Linked DNA regions of Homo sapiens: region 2 is linked to region 1. The links come from fine-mapping of genetic effects on plasma protein levels. A gene starts in region 1. The other region holds a variant in brackets. All regions are shown on one strand. Distances are from middle to middle. Region 1 holds the start of F10 (coagulation factor X). Region 2 overlaps MCF2L (MCF.2 cell line derived transforming sequence like).

The links. PIP is the posterior inclusion probability: the model's chance that the variant is causal. Sun 2018 read protein levels with aptamers (SomaScan).
Region 2: its variant is fine-mapped to the plasma level of the F10 protein (Sun 2018, PIP 0.95).

What each region holds. Positions count from the first base shown.
Region 1 is chr13:113,119,143-113,133,942 of GRCh38, reverse strand. It overlaps F10 (coagulation factor X), which reads right to left and starts at 11,144. Exons shown (of 8, transcript NM_000504.4): 1 at 11,018-11,144; 2 at 4,331-4,491. The coding sequence starts at 11,087. It overlaps F7 (coagulation factor VII), which reads right to left. Exons shown (of 8, transcript NM_019616.4): 8 at 13,258-14,800. F10-AS1 (F10 antisense RNA 1) reads left to right here and starts at 3,897. Exons shown (of 3, transcript NR_126424.1): 1 at 3,897-3,937; 2 at 5,066-5,208; 3 at 5,518-5,788. It also overlaps the pseudogene KARS1P2. RefSeq lists enhancers at 3,266-3,992, 3,993-4,719.
Region 2 is chr13:113,096,794-113,105,333 of GRCh38, reverse strand. MCF2L (MCF.2 cell line derived transforming sequence like) reads right to left here. Exons shown (of 30, transcript NM_001112732.3): 30 at 5,592-8,540. The coding sequence ends at 8,475. Among named protein-coding and RNA genes, the nearest start is that of F7, 4.7 kb to the left of the region's middle. The variant A/C (reference allele first, on the strand shown) is at 4,663.

The sequences.
Region 1 (14,800 bases):
GCATCAATTGACATGATTATGTGGATGTTCTCTTTTGTTTATATGGTGGATTACATAATTATTTTTAAATATTGAGCCAGTCATGTGTGCCCCAGAAAAACTCACTTGGTCATGGTGTATTATTACTCTTTTAAAAATATATTGCTGCACCGTTTGCTAATATTTTGTTGAGGATTTTTATGTCTAGATTCATGAGAGATATTGTTACGTAGGGTGGTTTTTGTTTTCAGTATTTGTCTGGTTTTGACATCAGGGTAATGCTGGCCTAAGACAAACTAAGAAGTGTTCCCTCTTCTATGTTCTGGAAGAGTTGTATAGAATTGGTGTTCTTTTTGAAATGTTTGGTAAAATTCTACCAGTGAAACCATCTGTACCTGAACATTACTTTTTCAGAAGGTTTTAAATTAAGAATTGAATTGGCAGGTATCTCTTTCACCTTGTGTATGTTTTGGTGGCTTGTGGTATTGAAGAATAGGCTCATTTCATCCAAGTTCAAATCTCATGCAAATTTATATATGCAGAGTTGTTCAAAGTATTTTCTTATTATACATTTAACATCTACAGTTTCTGTAGTGATGTCCCCTCTCTTCCATTTCCAACATAGGTCCTTTTTCTTGTTTTTGTTTGTTTGTTTTTATTCCTGTCAGTCTTGTTTGAGTTTCATCAGCTTATTAATTTTGTCTATTATTTTTGTTTTAAATTTCTTTGATTTCTGCTTTTTCAATTTCCTTTTGGTTTATTTTTTTCTTTTTTTCTAGTTTATTAAAGTGGAAGCTTACATAAACAATTTGAGACCGTCTTTCTTTTCCCATGTGAGCATTTAATGCTATAAATTTCCCTTGAAACACTGCTTTTTTAGCTGCATCCCACAGATTTTATGTTACATATTCATTTTTGTTCAGCTCAAAATACTTTCTTACTCCCCTTAAAATTTTCTCTTTGACTCACAGATTATTTATACATGTGTGACTTAATTTCCGAGTACTTAGGGAAGTTTCCAGTTATTTTTCTGTTAGTAATTTTTACTTTAATTCCATTATGGTCAGAAAACATACTTTATGTGAGTTCAATCTTTTTATTGAGGTATGCTTTAAGACACAGGATATAGTCTACCTTGAGGAATTTTCCATATGTGGAAGGAAAGTGTACTTTGCTATTGTTGAGAATCCTATAAATGTCCATTAGATTCAGGTCAAGTGATGTCTGGAAGACTGGAGGAAAAAATGATAAACTCACAGCCAGTTGTATCATATCATACATCTAATTGTAGTCTTATTCTGCAATACACTGCGATTTACTTTTTAGGGTCGTCAAATAGCTGCTACATGCATTCTATCCATGTTTTGGAGCTACACTCAGTGGGAGAGGCAGTGTGGAATGTGATTTCTTCATCTTATCTGGAATTGGAACTTGTTGATAACCTTTAATTCAGTCGTCTCTCTCTGGAGAAGCCACTCTTAGATGATAATCTAGAAGAAATGCATGCATATGTGTTTTCCTAATAGCAATATTTAGAAATAACTTATATGGCCAAACTCTGAAAAGAGTAAATGCATCATACAATAAAATATAGCTTAGCTATAGGGTAGCTATATATAAGTAAAGAAGAGTGTTTGAGAAACGATGCTGAGTGAAACATAAACTTGGATCAGCATTATTTACTTTTACTAAAGAAAAATTCTACCAGTGGAAAAAAATATATGTATATATAAGAAGTATTTGAAAATATTTCCGAAAATTCTAAATTTTTTCTGTTAGAGACAAGCCATTTATTTGCTAACAAGTAATAAAAAGGAATTCTTAATTTAATTAAGAATTAGAGTAGACCTTGATCTTTTGCAGAAATGCAAAGATATCTGAGTCACACAACTTAGACAATTAAAATTTTCTAGATAGACGTGTCAATGTTGCGCTTTCCATTGTATTAGTGGCTGCTACATTCTCTTTCTTCAAGTTTCATGCCAGGAGTCAGAAATATTTCCTTGATGTTGTGGGAGTCTGTGAGAAACATGGTAACACATTTGATTGTCACGCTCCAACCAGCTGTGGGCGGAAGCCCATATTCCAGGGTTGCATGGAAGCTTTCATCTATGAATGTGGCCTCATCATCTTTGCTGGCCTTGTCTTGTTTGTCAACAGCTGCTGCTGTTGCTGCATGGAAACATTCAGCTATCTTCATGACAAATAGCTCAAAGTGCTCAGTGAGACCCTCTTAGAGAGATCATTTGGTCAAAGAGCTCATTATCTGCAGGTGATAACAGATAAATGTGGGACTGATGTAAGTCACTTTCAGGAACTCCTTGACAAGTTTATCAAGGCGCCTGAATATGTTCTGAGGTAGAAGACTTTCAAAAGCTTTTGTTACATAGATATCACCAATAATTTTTTGAGTTTCTTCAGTTCCAAAGAGGTTAGTTTCTGGCAGCGTCACACCCAGCACTTTTTCAAGCTCTTCTACCACACTGATTCTCCAGAAGGGTGAGGAGAAGTCAACCCATAGGTTTGGCTTTCTGAGCCATCTGGATGGTGGGTGACCTTGTAACCACCTGTGATGTGCTTCATCCCTGACATAATCTTTTCTTGGATTTCAATGAGATCATGACAGTCTGCACAGACCATATAGGGTGGCAAATCAAATACATTCTCTTATTCCTTAACTGGCATCCAATTTCATAAATCCAGTCAATGCTACTAACCAGCATCTGAAGGTAGAGTCCTGGAGCAATTCTCAAATACAAGTTAATGTCCAGCTTGTTGTAGCAGGTGATGAAAGGCTTAGCCCCTGCTACCCGGGATGACGTTCATCATGAGGGTTTCAATGTCTAGAAATCTCAACTCATCCAAAAACCTTGTCATATATGTGGTGATCTTAGGGCAGATGATACACTGCTTTCTCAGAAAGTCACTCAGGATCAAATCCAAGTACTCAAATAATATTGGGTCTCCTTGCCTTTGAGGCTAAAGTAAGGATGGGGCAACATGTGAGCCAGGAGGCAGCAGTGCAATTTTGCAGGGGCTGATGCTGCGCTCGCCCTTCTTGGTGTTTCCTAGATTTTCCTGGACTCTGAGTACGTCTCCCTGAGGCAGTTTATTTATTGACTTATAATTCCTTGACCTGGCCATAACTTGTAACTTCACCCTGGTCCGCAGGGGTCATTAGAAGGTGAACTTTCCCCAGCTCTTTTGGCATGGATCTCCAGGGTGACATCAGTCAGGTGGTCCCAGGCTGCAGGTGACTGCACTCCGGGATGAAGCAAGCGAGTAATGTCCACATGGAAGCTGCAGGGGTCTTCCCCAGTAACCTTCGGCGGTGGCCTGCGCTGGGGGACCTGTAAGGGGCCTCAAAGTTTCCATTTGGGTCCACAGTTAGTGGTGTGGCTGATGGCACCAGCCGCGGCTGGCCTAGCTGTTGCTCACTGAGCTCCGGCTTGGCCCCCTTCTCGGCTACTTTCTTCTCTTCAGCTCATTCTTGTCAGTTCGGCATCACCACCGCCCACTTCCACTTCAGAGCCCTGTCCTGCAGGCACCTTTCCTGATGCCTGGGGTGAGGAAGTCGAGACCCCTCGGCCATTTCCAGGTTCGTTCGAAGCCCCGCCTCTTCGGGGGAGAGGAGGGTAGCGTCTTCCGCGCGGGGCTGCTGCGGCTGCGCAATCGCGGCCTGGTGGCATTGCTCTCCTCCTACTGCGCAGGCGCGATGCTGGGTTCGTCGTCCGGTGTGGATGCCGGTCTTCCTGCTGCGCAGGCACCGTGCTGGGTTCGCGGCCTGGCCTCAGTGCGTGTCCTTTTGCTGCGCAGGCGCAGTGCCGGGTTCGCCGCCCGGCCTCAGTGCTAGTGCTTCTGCTGTGCAGGAGCAGTACTGGGTTCGTGGCCTGGCGTCAGTTGTGCGCCTGCGCGCTGGCGCTCTAGGCTGTGGCTCTCAGCGACTACGGAGGCCAAGGCAGGACGCGGGCTGCGGGCGTGGGAGGGCACGATCTCAGCTCACTGCAACTCGGCGAGGCGCTGGCCGAGACCATGACTATTGGTTTTTAGGTTAACATTTTATTTTTAAATAGAACTTAACTCTGGCAGAAGCCCTGTGACCCTCAAGGGACTTGGGCGCATCCCTCCCCGCTGAGTCCTCGCCGGGAAGGAGTCAGCGCGGGGGCGGCACTGATGTCCCTGTGGGCAGGACTCCGCCGAGGCCTCGATTTGCTGGGCCCCGCCCCTGAAAGCCTTCGCGCACGCTGCCCCTTCCTCCAGGCCGCCCCCCTGGATGGACGGAGCAGCGGGGCCAGCGAGGGCGCTGTGGCCTGAGCTCCTTACCAACAGCCAGGCTATCCCCAGCCCTTACCGTCTTGTCGCTGTCCTCAAAGACCTCGCGGGCCTCTTCGTATGAGCAGGTCTCTTCCATGCACTCTCTTTCGAGGTGTCCTTTCTTCATCTCTTCAAGAAAGGAATTGGCCCTCGTGACCCTCGCCAGGATGTTGTTGGCCTGCTCCCTGCGGATGAACACTGGAAGGCAGGGAGGACAGGGTTAAAAGCTCTGGTCACCCTCACCCAGGCTCCCCCTCACCTATGCTCCCTGACTGCCATGTCCCTTGCCATATCCAGATCACAAAAGGCGGATCACTCTCTTGTAAACCAAAAATAAAATTCTAAGCCCCCAACTCACTGAGTGGACCCGTCCTCTCTGCCAAGGGAATTCCATAGGAACCTGAAAGACTAGTTGAGGCCATGAGGGGAAGCAGGTCCCACACGCCTCATTATTTCTTCCTTTGGAATTCGGGCACAGCTGACCAGCATTCACGTTAAGAGACCTTGAGGCTGACCAAACAGAGTCTTTGTAGCAATAAGATACCAGTTTCCAACCTGACTTCTCTAGTATAGGATCACATGACATATAGCAGGCCCTAAAATAAATGATTTTACTCCAAATTGTATTTGTTTGACATATTTTGAAATGGCCCTGCAAAGCTATCTCAGGGAAATCCACATTCTGTAGAGAACCCCCTTACCATTCCAGGTCTTTTTCTGAGCTGAGAGTCTAGCACCTTTTTTTTTTTTTTTTTTTTTTTTTCTCTTTAAGATGGTGTTTTGCTCTGTCATCCAGGCTGGAGTGCAATGGCACAATCTCAGCTCACTGCAACATCTGCCTCCCAGGTTCAAGCCATTGTCCTGCCTCAGGAGGAGATTCTACTGTCTCAGCCTCCCGAGTAGCTGAAACTACAGGCAAGCACCACCACACCCGGCTAATTTTTGTATTTTTAGTAGAGATGGAGTTTCACCATGTTGGCCAGGCTGGTCTTGAACTCCTGACCTTAAGTGATCCACCTGCCTCAGCCTCCCAAAGTGCTGGGATTACAGGATGAGCCAAGGCGCCTGGCCATGTGTGTAGCACCTTTTAAAGGTCTGAAGAGGAAACAGTTGCCATCTATTCCCTCTAAGGGTGGCCACCTATGAGTCTTCATCTACATAACAAGAACCTTGGTCTCCACAACCTCTTATCTTAACCCAGATACTCCTTTCCATTTATTCCAGGTCTTTAGATAATAACTCTTTCAACTGATTGCCAATCAGAATATCTTTGAAGCCACCTATGACCTGGAAGCCCCCACCTTCCCCTTTTCTGGAACGAACCAGTGTACAACTTATGCTTATTGATTGGTGTCTGTATGTAACTTCTGTCCCCCTAAAATACATAAAATCAAGCTGTGACCCAACTACCTTGGACACATGTTCTCAGGACCTTCCAAGGCTGTGTCATGGGTCGTGGTCCTCACATTTGGCTCAGAATAAATCTCTTCAAATATTTTACAGAGTTTGGCTTCTTTATCAACACTTTCCTCAGGCACTTTGGGGGCTGTGGAGGGAAATGCCCATTTCCCCCCTCCCCCCAGTTCTCTATGAGGTACAGCATGAGGCACCTGCTCTAGACCCATGCACCCTTCTCTGGAGAAGTAGACACATCCCACCCAATCAGCTCACCAGCCTCCTCACATGCTCACGCTGGCTCAGCCTGGCCACCCAAGCCCCCTTCCTTGAATTCTCCCTCCCTAGGGTGCTTTCAGCCCACTGTTCTGTGCTTTGGCTCAAGCTGTGCCCCTTCAGCCTGGCCCCACTCGTCTTTAAGGTCTCTGCTCTTTGTTATGTGGGGATTGGTGATGCTGTTTCAATTACAAACTATAATAGTACAATTTATGAAGTGCCAGGACACACATACATGCCAACTTTCAAGAAATAGTATTTATTAGTATTTCCTAAAATACAGTACTTAGTACAAAGTTTTCTATTTGATTCTACTCTTTTAAAAAAAAATACTGAGTTGATTTCATGACTGGCAAATGAGTCTTGATCTGCTGGTTAAAATGCCCTGGATCCGAGAGTCTGTGTCCCTTGTAGAGTGTGTGTCTGTGGGCTGTGCTGTCCACATCTCTCTGCCTGTGTCTCCTTTGTCTCTCACCCACTCCTCCTCCTCTTTTCATTTTGACAGCCTCAGTTTCTTTTCTTGGCCCTCTGTAGTCTTTTTCTGTGCTTTTTTTCCACTGAAAAATTCAATGTCTCACTACAATAAAGATAACTCTTCCAACTGATCTCTCTAGCACTGACTTTTGTCCTGAGCTCCATGTTTTCAGCTCTCTCACTATGACAGATGCCTTCCCTCATCTCAGAACTCCAAACTCTCCATGTCCAAAATTTAAAACAAGACTGCAGAATCAAGCAATCTTGAGCTTCAAAAACACCTTAGTCACTTATTATTTATTATTGGCAGAAGGGAATTATAATATCTACTCTTAGAGCTGTTTTAAAGATTGTATAAACTCCTAGTGTTGAGTTTGGTATACAGAAGGTGCTTAGTAAATCTTGGGTTCATTCCTACCTCCAGTTACTTTACCTTCCAAATTCCCCATTTCTTTTAGTGACACCGACATTATCCCACCAACGCTAGACTTAGATTTATTATTTCTTGACCCTGCCCCATTACTCTGCGTGTCTGCTCCACTCCCACACACTTGCTCTGAAATGCAGCCCACACGTGGCTCCCTGCAACCTGCAGCCTCATGTCACCTCCACTCCACAAAAGGCACTGAGGAAGCTGAGGGGTGGGGAATGCCCATCTCCCTTGGGGCCTCTGGCTCTCATGTTGGGATGACCACAGCCTCAGACAAGTTATCCAAGCCTGGCTTAGTGTTTCCCAAACTGGGACTCGCGGGCCTCCTGGGCTCCAGTTGGGGTCTGAAGACCGCGTTCTGCCTTGCCCTCGGTGTTCTGACGCACCTCCATGTGAACACCTCTCTTGGTACCTTCTCTCTTCCCCTTGGTCTCCTTCCTTGTGGCCAGATGGACATATGCCTGCTTTTTTCTCTGCTACCCTAGAGCCACAGTGATGGTTCACAGACTTGCCACAAGGATTGGTCCCCACTCAACTGGAGCCTGACGCCCTCACTGTCTCTGGTCGATCCCTTGCGCCTCCTCTGACCTCTTAGAGGAACTCGCTGTTCTGTGATAGCGGCCACAGCTCTGTTCCCCTTGGCATCCACCCCCGAGCATCCCCAGGCTGATTGACCAGTAAGAAGTCACCTTTCCTTTGCAGCCCCTGTCCAGTTCCCGCCTTTTCCCATCTCCCTGAAGCCTGCTCAGCTCTCCCCAGCTCATGGGGGTAGGACACGGCCTATAAGGTTGAGCTGGACTGTGTGAGGAAGAGGGTACAGGTGGCAGGCACGGGGTGGAAAGGGTGATGCAAGGAAGTCAAGGACTACCCAGAATCTGCCTCTAGTGGTCTTAGAACAGAGCCCAGGGTCTTCCCATGGCCAGGCCTCCCAGGCCTCACCACCTTCAACTCTGCCCTCATTCACCTCTCTCTGCCACACTGGGCTCTGCGCTGACCCTGGCTGAGCCCAACACTCACACCCCAGGACTTTTGCACCAGTCACCTCCCTGTCTGGAACATTCTTTCCACAGATACCCAAGTGGCTCAGGCCCAGCGCCCTCCGAGACACCCTCCCTGACCACGCCCTCTGACGTTGCCCCCACTCGTGTCTCTTTCATCCCCTTACACTGTGCTATTTGTCTTCTAGCACCCAACCCCTCTCTGACATTACATGCTGACAGGCTTATCCTTCCCTCCGCTGGAAAAAGACTTGACGTGTTTGGTCACAGCTGTATGCCCGTGCCTAGCACGGCCGGAACTTAACCAATATGTGTTGAGGGAATGAAGGAAAGATGGCGTGCCTGGCTCAGCCCTCTGGACTGAATCTGGGCGCTTCTGCTATCTGTTATGGCTGAGTCGCATCAACGCTTCAGTCAGACTGAGCAGGCCGGGTCTGGGCCACGTGGCCACACTTTCTGATGTGAGTAAAATGGGATTTTGGCAAAACGAAATTAAAACAAGGTTTTTAGGCACTTGTCTCAAGAAATTAATGGAACACTCTAGAACTCTGATATGGAGCATCCAGATTGGTAGACATTTGTCGTGTGGTTTGTTTCTTCAGAAGCTGTTGGGAGCATTGCAATCCTCGAGCACACAGTTGTGTTTGTTGTTTTGGCAACATCAGTGAATTCCACAGTCAGCAACTGCATTTGAGCAAGTTTTACCAGCAAGCAAAATTTTCAGTCAGTAAGGTCCAAACTCATGAAGAATGGGTTTAAACTTGTTGAATGTAAAGATTGAAACTGAAGCCACGTAGCTTTAATGATTGCCAGTACAACAGCAGTAGTTTAAAGGCTGGCACTGCAGGTGCTCTGCGTATTCTGATTTTATTAAAATAAAAAGTTGGATTGCAGAAAACACTCACAGGTGGCAGGACAGGGCTGAATAATGTCCCTCCAAATTCATGTCTTTCCCAGAACCTCAGAACCTGACCTTAATTGGAAATAGAACTTTTGTGATGTATTTAGTTAGGAAGACATTTTATGGGAGTAGAGTGAGCCCTAAATCCAATGACTGGTGTCCTTCTGAGAGAAAAGAAGACAGAAAAACAGCCATGGTGAGAACCCCATGCGATGATGGAGGCAGCGATGGGAGCAATGCTCCCACAAGCCATGGGCTGTGAGGCCGCTGGCACCCCGAGGCCAGGAAACAGGCCTAGAGCAGACTCTCTCCCAGCCTCTGGAGGAACCAGCCCCGCTGACGCCTTGATTTTGAACTTCCAGCCTCCAGAGCTGTGGGAGAAATGTTTCTGTTGCTTTAAGCTACTTGGTCCATTGTCCTTTCTTGTAGCAGTACCAGCAAAGGAATGCTGAGGTCCCACCGCCCCAGAAGAACTTCCGTGACTGCCAGGACAGCTGTGCTCGTTTAAAGGCTAGACTGCAGATGCTGTGCGCATTCTGATTTTATTAAAATCAAAAGTGTGCACAGCAGGGTCCTGAGTGGGACCTTCTGGGACCTGTGTTCAGCCCCACCCACCCCACAGTGCAGCTGCCGAGGCCTCTGAGGCAGAGTAGGGGAGAGAGATGGCCTGGCCCTGGCTCTCCGGGGCTGGCCATGTCCACCCAGGGTCCAGGCCGGCCCCCGGGGACACCACAGGCCATGGTTATGAGCCAGGCCCGCATCACACAGCTAAGGGTGCCAATACCCTGTGGACCCAGAGGTCCGCGAGGTGGGCGCCTGCATTTCCCATTGGCAGGAAGGGAAGCTGGCGCTCCACCAGGACTCTGCATAACTCCCCTAGTTTCCTCCTGTGGGTCTGGGTGGGCTCCTGGCCTGTCTTCTCATCCCCACCCTCTGCTTCTTCCCAGGAAGAGGAGTCCTGCCAACTTCCATTCCCAATAAGCCAGAGCAGCTTCCAGAGTCCCGGGCCGGGCTTAGGGCCTCGGGAGCCCCGGGCCGGGCTTAGGGCCTCAGGATCCTAGAGCATTCCGGCTGCAGAATTTTCTACCAATTCGCGGAAGCATCTGTCTGTTTGCAGAGTAGCTTTGCTGTCGATGATGATGGCATGGGTCCTTCCAGGGCCTTGTTCCACCCACGCTGATCTCATCCCACCACAAGCATCACAGTGGGCTCCTGCAGGGGGCAGTGTGGCCTGAGGGGGAGGAAGAAGGCTGGGCGAGTTGGAGCCACACAGTACCCCATGAAGACGGGAGTCCCGTTCCGCGTGGGAGACAGGAAGATGTGGCTCAGGGGACAGAGGCTGGGGAGGGCAGGGGGTTGAGGGTGGGATGGAGAAGACCCCCGTGTGATGTGACTGGAGCTCCAAGTCACCAGGCGGAGGGGCCGTTTAGGTCAGTGATGCACTGAGGATCCACTCAGCCTTCCCAGGGGTCTCCCCTTTCCACCCCACGAGGGTCTCCCCCTGCTCCGTCTCTCCCTCACACATTCCCTTCCCAGGCCTGGGTCCCCTTGGTGCCCCTGCCTGTCCACTTTGTCCAGGATGCAAACAAGTCTAGGGTCCCTGTCTCTCGTGTCCCCACCAGAGGGGCCTCCTCTTCCTCCGCTGTCCCCAGGCTTGCCTGGCTTCTGTCCTGTCTGGGCCTCTGCTTTTGGACAGACCCGGGGGTCCTGGACAGCCCTGCTGCCCCCACCTGTCCAGCTGTGCATTAGGCAGCTCCTTCCCCGACGGAGCCAGTCCGAGAGTGGTGGCACTGGCTCGGCTCAGCCTCCTCCTCCCTGGGAGCTCCTCTGCTGTGCCCCTCGTCCTGTGCCTCCCTGTGGTGGCAGATGGCTAACTGTCCTGTCTCTGCCTGCCCCAACCCCTCCCTCTCTCTCTGTCTCCGTCTTTCTACCTCTGTCTCTGCCTCTTGGCCTCCCATCTCACTGTGTCTCCGTTTCTCCTTCCCTCTCCCTTTCTCTCTCTGACTCTGTCCTTGTGTTTTTGTCTCTGTGACCTCTGATCCGCCCGTCTGACTCTCAGCCCCAGGGAGCCACAGCTGGCCTTGAGGATGCCGTTGGCTGGAAAGGCCAAGCCCAGCCATCCGAGCCCAGCCTCTGGCAGCACTCAAGGCACCCACCGTCCAGGCTGCAGAGATGAGAGGGTTTCCCCAACTGCCGCCCCTCCCTGCTCCCTGGCGCTGCTTTTGGGTCTGAAGGGCGAGGGGCACTTACGACTTTCCCCGAGCAGCAGGAGGCCAGCCAGGGAGGCACTGAGCAGGACGAGGTGCAGTGGGCGCCCCATGGTGTGGCCGAGTACTGTGTCCCTGTCCTCACTGGGACAGGCTGCTGGAGCAAAGTCCACGCCCCAGCTGGGATGGCTGTTGTCTGGCTGCTTATCACTTGGCTTAGGCCTCCTGATTGGAGCCGAGACCTGCTGGCGAGGCAGGGGAGTGACCACGCTGGGAACACATCCACTCTGGCCCCACCTTCCCCAGGCAGAGCTGGGCGGCCAGAGAGGCCCCGCAGAACCTCATCCTCATCAGTCACCAGGGCCGCGGGTGTGGGGACTTTCTGTTCTAAGAATAAAAACATCATTTCGTGCTCATTTTGTAGTTTCCAGATGTTTACATTTAACTCTCAGTCCTCACATACAAATATCATTTTCCCCATCATTTTTCCAGAAGAGAAAACTAAGTTTAGAGAGCGCAGAAGCCTGAGCCGAGGCCGCTGGCAGTGAGCGTGGGATCTGAGCCCAGGACTTCTGCCCCAAGGCCCTGCTTGTTTCTGGGCGGGCCCTTCCGCTCACAGCCACTCTCTGGGTGGTATCAGGTGGTCTCATGTCACGGGGGGGGCTTGGCATCTGCACCATGGCCTCCCACAGGCCAGGCTGGCACCTGCCCCACCCACCCCCAAACCTTCTGTGCCCGCATGGCCCCAAAACGTACTTCTGTGGGGAGTGACCTTCCCGTGACCATCTGGAGGGACAGGCTGTGTCTGAAGCCCCTCCTGACCTGCCCACCACTGGCCACACTGTTCCGAGGCTGAGAGGGCTTCTGGGCTCGTTCTCCAGTGCAGAAACCTCCCATCACAAGGTCCTGAGTGTCTCTGCTCAATGGCTGTGGGAGTCACTGGGAGGTGCAGCCGGGCTTTTTGCCTCTGGGGTCTCTGGAATAAATGGTCTAAAGCTTGGCCAGTGTGGCGATCACTGCCTGCTATGCCGTAGTGGCCGGGGAGCAATGCCCCTAACACCCACAGCACTGGCCACTGCCTCATGGTGCATCTGCCTTGATGGGTCGCCCTGTCTCGCAGCCACCTGCACATGAGCCTGGTGTGCACACATTGTGCGTCATTGTGCCTGGCACACAGGAGGCACTCACTGAGCCCCACCCGACTGCACAAACTGATGATGCTGGATGCCAACGCCAGGCTGGCCTCCCACGGCGGGCACCACGCACAGCCTGGTCCTCTGAGAAGGGCCTTCCTGGTGGCACCAGATGTCTGACTCCTGCCTCTCCTGGTCTCCACCCTCTGACATCGCCTCTAGGCATGTTTGTATGGAGAGACCAATGCGGTGTGTGCACCAACAGCAGGATGCTCATGGCAGACACGCAGTCTTTGTCATCAATGCTGGGTGGCGATGCTGGCTTTGGTGGCCCAAGCCTGCCGCCTCATCCCACCCTGTCCCAGGCCCATGGCCAGTGGCCTCCCCGTATTCTATCTCGCCACTCACAGAAAGCTGGAGCTGAGCCGTGGCAGGTGGCACGTCCCATATGAAACATGTAGCCTTTGGGGGCGCCCAGGCCCTTCAGCGAAGCCTCTGGGGAGTCCCGGGCCCCCTCCTCCGGCAGCACCATGAGGTGGGCGCCTGCATTTCCCATTGGCAGGAAGGGAGGCTGGCGCTCCACCAGGACCCCGCATGACTCCCCTAGTTTCCTCCTGTGGGTCTGGGTGGGCTCCTGAACTGTCCTCTCATCCCCACCCTCCGCTTCTTCCCAGGAAGAGTCCTGCCAACTTCCACTCCCAAGAAGTCAGAGTGGCTTCCAGAACCCTGGGCTGGGCTTAGGCCCTCAGGAGCCCCGGGCATTCTGGTTGCAGAATTTTCTACCAATTCACTGAAGCATCTGTCTGCAGAGTGGCTTTGCTGTCGATGACCATGGCATGGGCCCTTCCAGGGCCTTGTTCCATCCATGCTGATCTCATCCCACCATAAGCATCACGGTGGGCTCCTGTTTTACACATGAGGAAACTGAGGCATGGTCACTCGGACAAAAGAGAAAGCAGAGCCAGCTCTGACCTGGATCAGGGCCCGCCACTGGCTCCCGTCCCGTTTAGGGGGCATTAGGAACCGGGGTCTGGCCAGGGTCAGCAAGCATCTTCAGCAGAGGTCCTGACACTAACCATGCTGGGCTTGGCGGGTCAGCTGGTCTGTCCGGCTGGACGTCTCTGCCACGGCCACTCCATGGACACTAATATGGGTGTGTTCCCATAAAACTTTATTTACAAGAGCAGGGTGCCTTGGAAGCAGCCCACGGCTGTAGTTCATAGACCCTGTCTGCTCTGAAGTAGATGATGCCTGAGTGCCCCCGAGGTGGGTTGCTGGTGCCTGCCTTGCTGCTGTGAGTGCCAATGGTGCCCACCTTGCTGCTGTGAGTGCCAGTGGTGCCCAGGACGGCCCTGCAGGGATGGCATCGAGTCCACTCTCTGAGCCGTGCTTGCCGGAGTCTGAGTGGGGGCACTGTTTGTCACCTCCCCATTTCTCTGTTCATGTGTTTCTCATTCTTCTTCCACCACCCTGGGGACTCAGCAAGAGTGCAGCTTGCCAGGTCCTCCCACTGCAGCCAGGGCCTGGGAACTTGCATTTAGTGATGCGTGTGTCCCTGACTCTTGAGCAGGTGCTCCCAGGGTCTCTGTGAAATATCATTGACAAGGGCTGTGGCAGGGAGAGAACATCCAATTCCACAGGATCCTGGGAGCTACAGCCTCAAACATCTATCAAACAGCTTTTGTTTTTAAAAAATAGCTTCCATGTGAGGGTTCATTTCAGTGATGTTGAAAATTGTGAAAGAAAAGAGCATCTCAGAGGATGAGCACCGGGGGCTCCAAAAATGAATCATGGGCAACCCAGTGGGTGGCAGGCACCACAGGTGTGCGGAGGAGACGCAGCCGTTTATTGTGAAGCTGGGAAGCAGGTGGGGAATAGTCTGTGCAGCCCGGCACCCAGCGAAGGGAGAAATACATTTGGGGGAGAGTTTGGGGGCATTCGCCACCATGCATGGTGATGCTTCTGAATTGTCTGAAGTGAAGATGATAATGGATAAGAACCAGAAAAGTGAGAGCTAAACAACCGCCTTCAGAGGACAGCACACATGGAGTCAGCATCGGTGTGTGTGCATCTGTGTGTGCATCTGTGTGTGTACATCGGTGTGTGTGCGCATTGGTGTGTGTGTGCTCATCCATGTGTGTGCATATCTGTGTGTGCGCACATCGGTGTGTGCATATCTCTGTGCATCCGTGTGCACTGATGTGTGCGTGCATTGGCATGTGCGTGCATCCATGTGTATATCTGTGTGTGCATCTGTGTGTGCATATCTCTATGTGCGTGTGCATCGGTGTGTTTGCGTATCTCTGTGTGACCATCTGTGTGTGCATCCGTGTGTGTGCATATCTCTGTGTGTGTGCATTGGCGTGTGTGTGTGTGCATCCATGTGTGTTCATGCCTCTACTGTCTCCAGCAATGAAGGCAGAGCAGCAGCCTGAGGCCAGCAGATCACGTGCAGGTGGGCTTGGCTGAAGGGAGGTAAGGAGGCTCAGCTGGGCTGTCTGCCTCCAGGACAACCTTGGCACTCCCCTGCCCCTCTGTCCAGCGCCTGTCTGCCTCTGCCTCTCATCTTTTCTATTCCATCTCTGTGTCTCTATTAGTCTCTTTGAATCTTGGAGTCTCTTTGAGTCTCTCTCCATGTCCTCAGAGTCTCTCCCTCAGTCTCTCTCTGTCTCTGTCTCTCTCTGTTTCTGTCT
Region 2 (8,540 bases), 25 kb after region 1:
CTGAGAAGTGCCGGGAATAGGATCATTCTGGCCCTGAGCTGGGCACCCCCACTCCGTTTTGACTGCAGGCAGCACCCCCATTCTCCAGCGGTCCACATCTTACGTCTTTTTGTTTGTTTTGTTTTGTTTGTTTGAGACAGAGTCTTGCTCTGTTGCCAGGCTGGAGAGTGCACTGGTGCAATCTCACTGCAACCTCCACCTCCCGGGTTCAAGTGATTCTTGTGCCTCAGCCTCCTGAGTAGCTGGGACCACAGGTGCACGTCACCATGCCTGGCTAATTTATATATATATATTTTTTTTTTTTAGCAGAGATGGGGTTTCACCGTGTTGACCAGGCTGGTTTCGAACTCCTGACCTCAAGTGATCCACATGCCTCAGCCTCCCAAAGTGCTGGGATTACAGGCGTGAGCCACTGTGCCCGGCTGGCGGCAGTCCACGTCATTTCTACCTGCTGTCATGGGCCCAAGCCACAAGCTGTGGTGACTAACCACCCCAGGTTGCCCAGGGACTGAGGGTTCTCAGAATGTGGAACTTTCCATCCCAAAAACACTGGGGTAGACGGTCATCCAAGCCTCCTGGGTTGCCCAGCAGGCCTGTCTGACCCCTCAAGCAGGGAGTATCCTCCATGTGAACAGTTGCATTGCTGATGACTTCTTTGGAAGCTGATGTCCAGTTCTTTTTACGGCTGGAGGGAGGGAGGTGATTCCTTCCCAACAGCCAAGTCTTAGCTCAGGGGTGCCTTTCAAAGCAGCCCCCAGCACCCCCAAAGCCTCCCTGCTTGCTGCTGACCTGCATCTCAGTCCAGAGAGCAGAGCACTTGCTGAGGGGCCGACAGGGCATGTTTTCTCTTCCACCCAGCACAGCTGAAGCCCATCTGTGCCCCTCCATGATATCGATCCCAGGGAGATCGCTTACAAAGTAGCTGCTCCGTCTGGAATAAAGCTCACGTCCAGCTCAAATCTGGTCCCCGCGGCTCTCGGCCAGCACAGCCCAAGGTAATTTCAGGACGTGGAGGGGAGGGGGCCATATCTAAACCCTACCCCTTTCCCACCTGAGAGTAGATGGCTGGCTGGTCTTAGGGTACCCTTCCCCTTTGGGGCTCCAGGTCAGAGGTCCTCAACCCTCTCTGGGCAGCAGAATGACCTGGGGAACCTCAAGCGCCAAAACCCCCTGAGAGATTCAGTGGCTCATGGCCTCGGGGCTGGTGAAGCTCTTCAGGTGATGGACCCTCACCTGCATGCAGCCCTCTCTGTGCGGGCAGGCGGGAGGGGGCAGGAACCGGGCTATCTGGCTGGGCTCTCTGCCCGTCTCACTGCTGGCCAGGGCGGCTGCAGGTGCCCGCCTATGGCCATTGTCCTGGTGTGGGTCCTTGAGGACACAGGTGTGAGGGGCTCCACCTGGCCCCGGGGACCCGCTCCATACCTCCCTGAGGGGGACCTGCCTGCTGGTCTCCCTCCCACGTCTGTCCCAGGGGCATGCCTGGAACCTTGCCTGGGGCTGGACCCGGCCACACGGAGTAGCAGGTGTGGGGGCTGCTGCACCATCCCTCTCACAAAACCCCACTTCCTCCCTTCAGGGAGGCTAACCAGGCTCTCCCAGGACTCCCGGGACCTCCTCTGGGGCCTCCTTGGACATGCTGTGGCCCTGTCACTAGGATGGGAGGGTCCTTCAGCCCCTACCCTGGGGAAGGGCACGGTCACAGCTCTGTTCCCAGGCCAGGCCTCCCTCTCTCCTGTGGCAGCCTCTGTTGATCCACCCATCCACTCATTCCCGCCTGCAAGAAGGGCTGGGCCCCTCCGCCTCACAGTCACTCTTGAGTGTGGAGGACACAGGAAAACTTTGGTTGTCATCTCAAGGCAAGTTGCTTGTTTGGGGGCTACAGAAACCACGTCAGCACCTTGTTCATCTGCAGCCATCCCTGACTGTGGTGGTGGGCACACGTGAGCTGTCCAGGGAGTGTGTGAGTCAGATGTCTGTGACATCAGAATCTCTTGGGTGGTGGCTCATGCCTGTAATCCCAGCACTTTGGGAGGCTGAGGACTGAGGATCGCTTGAGGAAAGGAGTTCCAGACCAACCTGGGCAACATAGCAAGACCAAAGCTAGACAAAAAATAAAAAAATTAGCTGGGCTTGGTGGTTCATGCCTGTGGTCCCAGAGACAGAGAACCCGGGAGGCAGAGGTTGCAATGAGCTGAGATTGTGCCACTGCACTCAAGCCTGGGCGACAGAGGGAGACCCTGACTCCTTCCCTACCAAAGAATCTCCATGCTCACACTCGTACATGAGAACCACGCTCGCACAACCCAAACTCACGCCATACACATACCACACTCACACACACCGTACACATGCCACACTCATACCCCAAAGTCACACCACATAAACACACCCCTATACACATGCCACACACCTACACACACGTGATTTCCAGGCTCTTCCACACCCATAAGGAATTGGAATCTACGGGCAGGTCCCGGGAATAGTATTGAACAAACATCCAGGGAAACTGCTATGTGTTCTCGTTTTGGGAACCAGTGAGCACATCCCACCTGGTGCCAAATGCATCTCGGCAGGACGCATGTATGCCAGGGAAACAGGCAGCCACTAACAGGATTTGAGCTTGGGCACCAATTGGTTCCAAATCCTATTTGGTGCAATCCTAGAAGCAAGGGTTTCCTTGTGACGGAGGGTGCAGGGCATGGGAGGACAGAGGAGCTGCGTGCACGGATGCCTGTGTGCCCTGTGCCTGCAAAGCCGCCACAGCAAGCTGTCTTGCAGGCCAGTTCCAATGGCTGACAGTGTGTGCACTGGCGAGGAAAAGCCTGTGCTAAGCGGAACTCTGCTGTCTGTGCAGAGAAGGGAGCTGGGCCTGGGCACCACTGTCAGCCAGTAGAGCACGGGGCTGCTCCCTCCACCCCACCCGGGTGCTTTGCCTTCTTGGGGCCACAGCTGGAGGCAGCTGAGCCCTCGGGCCTGCCGGGTGTCACACCAGTGCTGTAGGATGCTAACTTTCAGTTTAAGAGAGAGAATGTATGCAAGGTTGAACAGTTATGATTTTGAGCAGAATTTTTCTTCTCTGGGCCTTGGTCCTGCTTTTCACCCTTGTCTGGGGTCTTAGCGTGGAGAGAAATTCACCATGGGATGTGCTCAGATTGTCCATCTTATCTTTTTGTCCATCTCTTAAAGTGTAGCTTGTCTTTTGTAAGAAATCTATCCTTGCCCTAGGCAATAAGAATATTCTGTTTCCTCATAATAATGTTTTAATCTTAAGTTTGGGGGGGCTATACTTTTATGCCATCATCCACATGGAAAGGCAGCTGTCCCAATAACACCCGTTCCTGAAGAGGCCATTCCGTGCCAAAGATTGACCAGCCCCAGGACAAGCCAGGTCCCTGCACACATCCCTGCCTGGGAATCTGAATTCTGCTCGACCAGTTTAGCCTCTCTCCCCCTTGTCACGACTGATGACAGGTTTATGATCTATCCAGATGCCTGGTAGGTGAGCCCTCCTCCTCCTGCCTCTGCTCCCCGAATCACCACGGCTATACTCAGACCTTTATCTTCTATGTTTATTACAATCAACTTCCTAATTCCACAAAGAATTCTGTTGGAATTTTGATGAAATACACAGATTAACTTGGGGGAGAGTTAACACTTTGGTGATACTGAATTGTCCCATCCATAAAAATCTCCCATTTAGGCCTTCTTTTATGACCTTCTATCATGTTTCATAATTTTGTCCAAAACTTTTGTTACATTTATTTTAGTATTTAGGTTGCTGTTAAAATAGTATTGTTATTGCTAGGAATGTTAATAACTTTTTGTGGGTTGATCTTGTGGACTTCTTAGTTTCAATAGTTTATGAATTCACCTGGTTTTTCTAGATATGAAAAGTTATTTTTCAATTAGCATGCCTTGGTTCCTTTTTCTTTTTTTCTTTTTTTGAGATGGAGTTTCACTCTTGTTGCCCAGGCTGGAGTGCAATGGCGACATCTCGGCTCACGGCAACCTCTGCCTCCTGGGATCAGGCGATTCTCCCGTCTCAGCCTCCCGAGTAGCTGGGATTACAGGCATGCACCACCACGCCCGGCTAATTTTGTATTTTTAATAGAGACGGGGTTTCACCGTGTTAGCCAGGATGGTCTCGATCTCCTGACCTCGTGATCTGCCGCCTCGGCCTCCCAAAGTGCTGGGATGACAGGCCTGAGCCGCCGCGCTGGCCTTGTTTCCTTTTCCTTTGCGGTGGTAGTCACTAGTACTGCGGCTAAATGGCGCTGGAGAGTAGTGGGGCCCCGTTCAGTTCTGCTGCCAATGGGGATGGTTCTAAAGGATTTCAGTACTTAAAATTTTTGCTGCAGCCGGGCGCGGTGGCTCACGCCTGTAATCCCAGCACTTTGGGAGGCTGAGGTGGGAGATCACGAGGTCAGGAGATCGAGACCATCCCGGCTAACGCAGTGAAACCCCGTCTCTACTAAAAATACAAAAAATGAGCCGGGCGTGGTGGCGGGCGCCTGTAGTCCCAGCTCCTCGGGAGGCTGAGGCAGGAGAGTGGTGTGAACCCGGGAGGCGGAGCTTGCAGTGAGCCGAGATCGCGCCACTGCACTCCAGCCTGGGCGACAGAGCGAGACTCCGTCTCAGAAAACAAACAAACAAACAAACAAA[A/C]AAAAAAAGTTCGCTGCAAAGATTTTGTTTGATACATATTATTTAGTTAAAGAAATTTTCTTCTACTCCTAGTTGGCCTAACATGACAAGTACATGTTGAATAAAAATTGAATTATTGTTTTGCATTTGTTAAGCTGGTGATTTTACCCTTCACTTCATTAATATGGCAAATTATAGCCACATTAACATACTACCCCTTGCATTCCTGGGATGAATTTACTTGCTTAGAAAGTATTACCTTTATTTATAACACAGAATTGGGTTTTACTTAATTATATTTCATTTGGAATTTTTGCATTCATCTTCATAATTTTATTTTTTCTTACATTGTCTTTTTGTTTGGTTGATTTTGAGAGACAGGGTCTTGCTCTGTTGCCCAGGCTGGAGTGCAGTGGCATGATCATCATAGCTCACTGCAGCCTTGGACTCCTGGGCTCACTTGTAAGGTCTCAGCTTCCCAAGTAGCTGGGACTACAGGTATGTGCCACCATGCCCGGCTAATTTTTAAATTTCATGTAGAGATGGTGTCTTGCAATGTTGCCCAGGCTGGTCTCAAACTCCTGGTCTCAGACAACTCTCCCACCTCGGCCTCCCAAAGTACTAGAAGAACAGATGTGAGCCACCTGGCCCAGCTGATTCTTTTCTTACATAATCTTTGTCAGGTTTGGGTACCAAGGTTAAATTTGATTCATAACTTTATTGAGTTGCTTTCTCTTGTTATATTCTTTTAAATAGCTTTTATAAATATGTTTGTATGCTTACAAAATCACCTAGATCTGGTATCTGTTTGGGGTAATTTTTTTTTTAATTGCAATGCAATTTCTGTAACTGTTATTCATCAACCCAAGTATTTCATTTCTTCTTGACCAATTCTAACAATAAATCCTATTTATCTGTTTTCAAATATATTGGCAGAAAGGTGTTCATAATGGTTCTCTCATATTTAAAATTTTTTATTTGATATGGAGTTTCTTAGGTTTTCTATAAATTAGTCAGTTTTATTAGATTTTTCAGGTACAAAGTTTGAGTTTTGCTTTTGATTTTGTTATTCTCTTTTCTCAACTGTCCTAATTGACAGAAGTATTTAAATACTTTCTTTGGGTTACGCTAGTCTTATTTTTTTGGCTTAAATGGTTAACTCGTTCATTTTGTCATGTATAAAATCAGACACCACTAAGCTGTCGACACCAATCTGAGCTGGCCGTGGCTGCTCCCTCCCGTGGCTCTGTGCACGCTGTCCAGTTCTAGAGAGCAGACTGCCCGCATCCCGTGAGTTAGAAACAAGCTTTTAAATTGCCAAACAGTGTTTCAATGATCTTCCCATTGTTTTGCAAATATTTTGTTTGTGCTCCATGTGTGCTGGAAAATAACGCAGATTTCTCTACGTTTAGGGGCAAACAGGGATCACTTTTCATGACAGTCAACATTGCTGTCTGCCGACTGCCAACTTTGCTGTGTTTTGAGCTTTATAGTCAGTGGCTTATGAGTTCCTGATTGCCACGCAGCCCCCTTTACTCTATGAACTGTCCTGAATCCCATTTCAGGTCATCGATACTGCTACACCAGCTTTCTTATGGTGTTTGTCTGTTCTGTCTTCTTTTATTTTAAATCTCCAATCTATATATAAATTTGCTTGATGGTCTCTAAGCAGTGACTTGTCACGTCTGATCCGATGCTCTTCCAGGCCAGCATAACATGATCACGTCTGTTGTGAGCCAGACACATCTGGGCTGTCTCTTCCGTTACATGTTGTTTCCTGTTAACCATGCTTTCCCCTTTCTCCACCCTTCCCTTCTTCTATTGGATCAATACCCTTTCTTTATGCTCCCTTTTCTGGTCTGGAGAGTGTCGGCTGCATTGTGATTCTGTAATGGTTCCACTACGCTTCCTCTGCTGCCTTTGCGTTTCTGACACGCACAACCTTGTTGCTATTTTGTCATCATCGCCGTCTGACAGAAGAAAGCAAAGCGGTTGCTCGGTGCCTGAGCCGCACGCTGGGCCCTGCCCACTGCCGGCTTCTTTTCCGTCCCAACAATGACTTACCATGTGCAAGCACAGTGCACTGCGGCCCTGGAAACCCCGACTGCTGAGACGTTCTGTGTCTTGACAGACAAAGGCAGATGGCAGGAGTTGCTGATATTTATTCAAACGTCATCCATACAATAAAGAACTCTGCTTTTAAAATTCCATTTACATCAGCAGTTAAAAAAAAGTGACAGTGGATGAAACATGAAGCTGTAAAGTGCCTTTATGGGGAGGGTCACACAAGGGCGCGCAGCTGTGCGACGAGACGGAGGCACCGCGCCTGCACAGTACATCAGGGACATCGCGGGACACAGCACGCGTTCCAAATAACTTACACATCAGAGGAAAAGCTGCCGAGTCTCTGCATGCTTCCTATTTGATTCCGCACCCTGGAGGTCTGGCCAGTGACGGCTACAAGCCGCTGGGAGGGTAGCGTGAGGGGAATGCAGCCACGCCTGCCTCCACTGTGCTGGGGCTGGGAACCGTGAGGCTGTGAGGCGGCCCTCCCAGCAGCACGGGGACAGCGAATATGTCCTTTCCAGCAAGACACATATGTACACACATGGTCAGAGGTGCACACATACAAAAACATCTGCAGACTAGACACCGAAAGGGCTTCAAAAGTTTTGAACAGAATATGTTTCTGAAACACAAGAAGTTGGTAAAACAGAAGAGTTTTTTTCCAGTTCTGCTGTGACTTGAATAAAATACTCTCCCCACTTTCACTTCTGTACTCAAGGTGGTCACCAGGTGGCAGGTGGACCTGGGTGGGAGGCAGGGGGCGCGTGGGGAGTGGAGTGGAGGTGCGGCCTCCGAGGAGGCTGCAGTGCAGTGAGGCAGGGGCAGGGCTCTCTGAGCTATGGTCGGCAGCACTGGTCCACGCCACACCCTGCAGAAACTGCATCTTTGTATTTTCTTTAAAAGCAATAAAAATATCCTAATTCAGTGAAGCTCTTTAAAAAAATCAAGTCCCTGCATTTTTTTTGTAGAAAAGAACGTTAATTGTTTAAATTATAGTTTAAATTTTCTTTTGAAAATGAACCCTAGGTAGATAAAGGAATCTCCTTGGCTTCTAACTGCTTTTGGTGGTGGAGACACCACCTGATGTCACCCACGGACACGTTTTCATCCACCTGTGACCAGGGAGCTTCAGGGAGTGCCATCCGTTTCCATGGGAGAGCCCCCCCAAAGTCACTTAGTGGTATAAACAACGTGCTTCTATGTAAACCCCGGTAACAAAAAAATAGTTTTCTATCAAATACAGTATCAAATTGTCATTTCATGTAAACACAGTGATTCCTGGTGAAGAATTGAGGCCAAAGTACCACAAAAAATGGCCACGGGATTGATCCCTGCTTGAAAAAATCCTAAAACTTGTAAAAGCTAAAGAGACCCCGTGCCCCGCTCTCCTCAGGCCGTTGGCCAGAGGATCCTCCACTTCTCCGGAAGCAGCTCCACCACGGTCCGCGCGTCCCCTGAAAGCACCGTCCAGAGGCAGAAGCAGCACGGTGGAGCCAGGACGAGATGCCGCTGCCCGGCGCCTGCCGCCCGGGGCTGTTCCCTGCGGCCCCTCCTCTGTGGGCTCTGGAGTCTCCGGGGAAGCCCCAGCGGGCCGGGGTCTTCCGTGGAACCTGCCTCTGCCCCGGAGGGGTCCTCTGCAGCCCGCACGGCCAGGCGCTCTGGGTGGGGGCGGTGAGGTGCCCCTTCCTCGGGGCGTCCGGGGGCCGCGCCCTCCCCACGCCACCGCAGCCCCAGACAGCGCGCGGGTCTCCGGCGCCGAGGCCGCGCTACCCCTGCAGGTCGGAGAAGGGGGCCTGGCCGCCCTCGCTGCAGCTGGACGAGTTGCTCAGCAC